Regions from separate parts of the Homo sapiens genome. Here region 2 is linked to region 1. The links come from fine-mapping of genetic effects on gene expression. Tissue or cell type: whole blood. Region 1 holds a variant in brackets; the other region holds the start of a gene. All regions are shown on one strand. Distances are from middle to middle.

Region 1 (2,625 bases):
AGAGCTCCCATGTGGCTCTGGGAGAACGGCTGGGGCCAGGGAGAGAGCTCGGGCCCTCCAGGGTCAGGCTCACCCCCACGCACCCCCAGGCCCACCCAGGCAGCCCCTTGCAGTCTCACTCCCAAGTGTGTCCCCCTCCCCAGCACGAGTCAGGAGGGAAATTGGGTTCTTCCACATAAGGACCCAGGGAACCAACTTCCCTCTCACTTACGAGGTCACCCTTGGGGCCGCGGAACCCTTCTGGGCCCCTCTCGCCTCGGTCACCCTGGAAAGGATGAGGTGGGGCAGGGACAGAGTTAACACCATGGAGTTGGTCGGAGAGTAGGACGGGGGCCCCTCCAGGCCCGGGCGGGGGACAGCCCTCCAGGAGTGGTCAGAGAGTGGGATGGGGGCCCCTCCAGGCCTGGGCCCTCCAGGAGTGGTCAGAGATGGCTGGAGGTGCCAGAGGGACGATGGTGACCCCTCATTCCACGTCCAGAACCAGAAAGGAGGCGAATGTCTCACAAAGAATGGATTCCATTGGTAAGCACCCCCGTACCCATGCCACAAGCCCTCCCAGGGTGTCCAGGGAACAGCTCAGCCACAGAAGAGGGGCCCCAGTGGGGCTGGGGGCGTCTGAGAGGAGCAGAGGGAAAGGGGAGAGAGGTCACGAGGCATGGCGCCCACCGTCCACTGACACACGTACCGCTTTCCCAGGCGCTCCTGGGATCCCAGGCGGCCCTCGGAACCCAATGGGACCCTGCAGAGGAGAGAGGGGATCCGGGGTCCTCTTGTCTGAGGCCTGGCTGGCATCCCCCCAGTGCTCCCTCAGGGGCGGCCCAGACACAAGCAGCCCTTCCTCTAGGGCTCCCCAGCAAGTTCCCCCAAGATGCCACCTAGTAGTCTCCAAATCCCTGCTTCCCCTCCTGCTCTGGCCTAAGCCACAACAGCCCTCACAGCAGCCTGGGACCGTGTGTGTGGGTGTCAGCGAGCAGAGTTCATCAGCCCTCGCCCGGGCACACGCGTGAATAGCCCTCACAGCAGCCTGGGACCGCGTGCGGGCATCAGTGAGCGCCGACTGTCAGCTCTCGCCCAGGCACATGCGAGAACAGGGGCCCAGAGCAAGGCCTGCGCCACAGTGGCGATGGCCA[G/A]AGCCAGGGTGCCGGCTGCTTCAGAGTGTCACTCACGGGGCCCATCTGAAGTCTGGAGGTGCAGACAACCAGGCCCCCAGCCACCTGGCCGGCCCCCACTAGGGGCTGCAGGACTTACCCGGTCCCCAGGGGGCCCGAGTGGCCCTGGCAGTCCTCGTAATCCCCGGGGGCCCTGCGAGAGAGAGGCACAGATGCAGAGGCTGGGGCTGCACCTCCACCCCGGGGAGCACCCAGGGCCAAGGCCCTCGGGGTACCCCTGGGAGCCCTGGTGTCTTCCATGAGCCCTCAGCCTCAGCTCAGGTCCCCCAGAGGGAGGGGGCACCAGCCTTGAGGTCAGCAGCCTTGGCAGAGGTGGGACCCCCAGCCAGGTCGCGCTCCTGTGCCTGGGTGTTGGCCAAACACCCCCCAGCCGGAGCTGGCCCCCTCGGGGGTAGATATGTGCAGGGCTTGATCACTCTGTGGGCTGAGTTCCCATCCCACCATCCTTACCCCTTCCTAGCCTCACCTGCAGCCCCACGCTGCCCGGGAGGCCGGCGGGCCCAGGGGGGCCAGGGTCACCCTGAAACAGAGGGGATAGGGTGGTCAGCGGCCCAGTCTGGCTCTCCTTGCACCTTTCGGTGCCTCCAGTCACCCTACTCAAGCCCAAGCAGCTGGGGGTGTTGCCCCCTTCACAGCTGGGCCTTGGAGGCTCTGTGAAGGGGACACTTGCCCACAGTTCCAGAGCAGTCCCGCGAGTCTCGGTGGCCTCGCCCTGCCGGGCCGGGGTCCGTGGTCACTGTTCCCACAAGGCCCTTCAGCCCTGTCCAGGCCCCTCCTCGTGGCCAAGCAGGGACCCCTCTGATGTGCACCTGGGGTCTCCTCATCTGATCACTCCAGCCACGCTAAAGGGCATCCCAGACCTGGTCCCCCGGCCTGCAGGTGACCATGGACAGACACCCTCCACGGACAGCGACCACAGGTGAGGGGAGGCTACAGGCTAAAGCCAGCCATCCTCACAGATGCCCCTCGCCCCGGCCACAGACACAAACCAGGGAGCTTCCACAGCGAGGCCAGGCAGGACGGGGTCTGTCCAGGGACCCTGCCTAAATCACCCAGCTCTGACCAGCCAGGCCCTGTCTGGAAGACAGGCACAGAAGGTGCCAGTGCAGGTGCACCCATGAAACGGTCCCTCCCCACCGCCGGAGCCCAGCCCCTCCCTCCCGCCGGAGCCCAGCCCCTCCCTCCCGCCGGAGCCCAGCCCCTCCCTCCCGCCGGAGCCCAGCCCCTCCCTCCCGCCGGAGCCCAGCCCCTCCCTCCCGCCGGAGCCCAGCCTCCAGTCCCCAGCTCCTCCCCAGCTGCTGTGCGGCAGCTTCACCTTCTCGCCGTCCTTGCCGACTTCCCCCTGCTCGCCTTTGTAGCCAGTGGGTCCCTGCAAGCAAATGTGGGGTCACTGCCCCACCCAGACCCCCCGACACCCCCTCCCTGGCAACACTGAAGTGAGGCCTGCAGGGTCAGT
Region 2 (2,694 bases), 36 kb before region 1:
GCCACCACACCTGGCTAATTTTTTATATTTTTAGTAGACACGAGATTTCATCATGTTGGCCAAGCTGATCTCGAACTCCTGACCTCAAGGGATCTGCCCGCCTCGGCCTCCCAAAGTGCTGGGATTACAGGCGTGAGCCACCTCACCTGGCAATCATTACTTCTTAAAATGTCTTTCTCCCCATCCTTCCACCCCCAGGGGACTTCAAATCACACTGCTTGAAGCGGCCCCACAGCTCACTGATGCTCTGCTCACTCTCTTAGCCTTCCCTCTCTGTTTTACGTTAGACGACTTCTGTTGCCATGTCCTTGAGAGTTTTAAGTCCTTGCTTTCCTCCTTGGTAGTGTTTTCTGAAACCTGATGTTTTGCCCAAAACTGATATATTATTTTCATGTATACATGTGTGAGTTTAGATTTGCATGGCTGAGCTTTCATAGCCCATCGTTGAATCATTGTAATATATTGGTCTGTGTCTAAACTGTGATGAAATGAGCGAAAGATTCAGACCCGGCTTAGAAGACGATGTGCAAGTCACAGGCCTTTAAGTGTCCTAATGCCTAGACAGAGAACAGACAACCACTGAGTGAGATGGGAATGTGGGTGAGAGGTTAAGTACAGGAATTATTTCAAGATTGCAAAAATAAGTCTCTTAAAGACCACATATTGCATAGTTCCCTTAACAGGGAAGGCCCAGCCTAGGCAAACTCCTGGACACAGAAGATTAGTGGCTGCAGGCGGGGGAGGGGCAGTGTGCTGACTGCTACAGGAGACCGGTGGTGAATGCAGCGGTGGAGGCGGGCCCAGCGCTGGGAATGTACCACCACCGTCGCGCTGTGCATTTTTTTTTTTTTTTTGAGATGAAGTCTGGCTCTGTTGCCCAGGCTGGAGTGCAGTGGCAAGATCTCGACTCACTGCAACCTCCGCCTCCCGGGTTCAAGCGATTCTCCTGCCTCAGCCTCCCGAGTAGCTGGGATTACAGGCACGCACTACCACGTCCAGCTAATTTTTGTATTTTTAGTAGAGACGGGGTTTCACCATGTTGGCCAGGCTGGTCTCGATCTCCTGACCTCCTGATCCACCTGCCTCGGCCTCCCAAAGTACTGGGATTACAGGCATGAGCCACAGAACCCGGCCATGCGCTGCGCATTTTACGCGGATGAAGCGGATGGCCTGGGCACTGTGGACTGTGGGTCCAGGGAGCTGTTTTGACAACGTCTTCATTCCTGCCGCTGTAATGGGGCGCACGTGCACGCACGGACGTGGCTTCTCCCCAGGGTGTCACCGCGTAGGTATCACGCTGATTCCAGCGCAGCCGCCCTCGCCGGGCCTCAGCGGGGAGTGGCCGGGCAGCAGGGGCGTGGCTGGGAACCGGGCGTGGCCTGAGCTGGGGGCGTGGCCTAGCTGTGGGGGCGTGGCTGGGCCGTGGGGGCGGGCCCTCCGCGCAAGCATCCGCCGACGTGGGGCGGGGCCGGGCGTGCGGGCGGTTGGGCGGGGGCGGGGCCGGCGGCGGCGGGTAACGGAGGGGGCGGGGCTGGCGCAGGGGTGGGGTTGCCGTTGCGGGGCGGGGCGGCGCAGGCGCTGTGCGCGGCACTCAGCGGTTTTCCCTCCCCCAACGGCGCGCCGGCTGTGGCCGGCGCAGAGTAGTGCTCGGGCCGGGGGTCGCCTCCCGCCTCCCGCCTCCCGCCTCCCGCCGCCCGCCGCCCGCGTCGCCCTCGCCGCCGTTGGGCCGCGCCGCGCCGCCATGTCGGGCCCCGGACCGCGGGAGCCGCCGCCGGAGGCAGGCGCGGCAGGCGGCGAGGCGGCCGTCGAGGGCGCGGGCGGCGGGGACGCGGCGCTGGGCGAGCCGGGGCTGAGCTTCACGACCACCGACCTGAGCCTGGTGGAGATGACGGAGGTGGAGTACACGCAGCTGCAGCACATCCTCTGCTCGCACATGGAGGCGGCGGCTGACGGCGAGCTCGAGACGCGCCTCAACTCGGCGCTGCTGGCGGCGGCGGGCCCGGGCGCAGGCGCGGGCGGCTTCGCGGCGGGCGGTCAGGGGGGCGCGGCGCCCGTGTACCCCGTGCTGTGCCCGTCCGCGCTGGCGGCCGACGCGCCCTGCCTGGGCCACATCGACTTCCAGGAGCTGCGCATGATGCTGCTAAGCGAGGCGGGCGCGGCGGAGAAGACGTCGGGCGGCGGGGACGGAGCGAGGGCCCGGGCCGACGGCGCCGCCAAGGAGGGCGCGGGCGCGGCTGCGGCTGCGGCTGGACCCGACGGCGCGCCCGAGGCCCGGGCCAAGCCGGCCGTGCGCGTCCGCCTGGAGGACCGCTTCAACAGCATCCCCGCCGAGCCGCCGCCCGCGCCGCGCGGCCCCGAGCCCCCCGAGCCGGGCGGGGCGCTCAACAAGTGCGTGCCCGGCGGCCGGGGGCTGGCGGGGCCCGGGTGGAGGCCGAGGCCGGGGCCGGGGCCGGGGCGGAGGCAAAGGGGGCCCTCGCTGTGCACGCCCCCAGCCTGCCCTCCCGGCGGCACAGGGCGCGGACCTCACCGGGTCTGGGGCCGCCCCGAAAGGCTGTGTGCGCTGTGCGGGCCCCGGGGAGCAGGTACTTCCAGAAACTAAACACCCCCTCCCTCAGTGGCCCCGCCTGGAGTGGGGCCGAGCGCGCAGAATTCCTGGGAACCATGTGCTCCGGGTGGCACTCTTGGATGTCAGGG

What was found. PIP is the estimated chance that this variant, and not a neighbour inherited with it, causes the effect.
Region 2: it holds the start of TCFL5, and the variant in region 1 is fine-mapped to the expression of TCFL5 in whole blood (TOPMed, PIP above 0.99).

What each region holds. Positions count from the first base shown.
Region 1 is chr20:62,824,881-62,827,505 of GRCh38, reverse strand. COL9A3 (collagen type IX alpha 3 chain) reads right to left here. Exons shown (of 32, transcript NM_001853.4): 12 at 2,485-2,538; 13 at 1,636-1,689; 14 at 1,249-1,302; 15 at 686-739; 16 at 212-265. Among named protein-coding and RNA genes, the nearest start is that of COL9A3, 9.1 kb to the right of the region's middle. RefSeq lists a silencer at 2,248-2,307. The variant G/A (reference allele first, on the strand shown) is at 1,131.
Region 2 is chr20:62,860,718-62,863,411 of GRCh38, reverse strand. It overlaps TCFL5 (transcription factor like 5), which reads left to right and starts at 1,590. Exons shown (of 6, transcript NM_006602.4): 1 at 1,590-2,388. The coding sequence starts at 1,742. LOC105372717 (a long non-coding RNA gene) reads right to left here and starts at 1,977. Exons shown (of 4, transcript XR_936989.4): 1 at 1,871-1,977. RefSeq lists silencers at 1,182-1,281, 1,332-1,521, 2,022-2,171 and an enhancer at 1,143-1,797.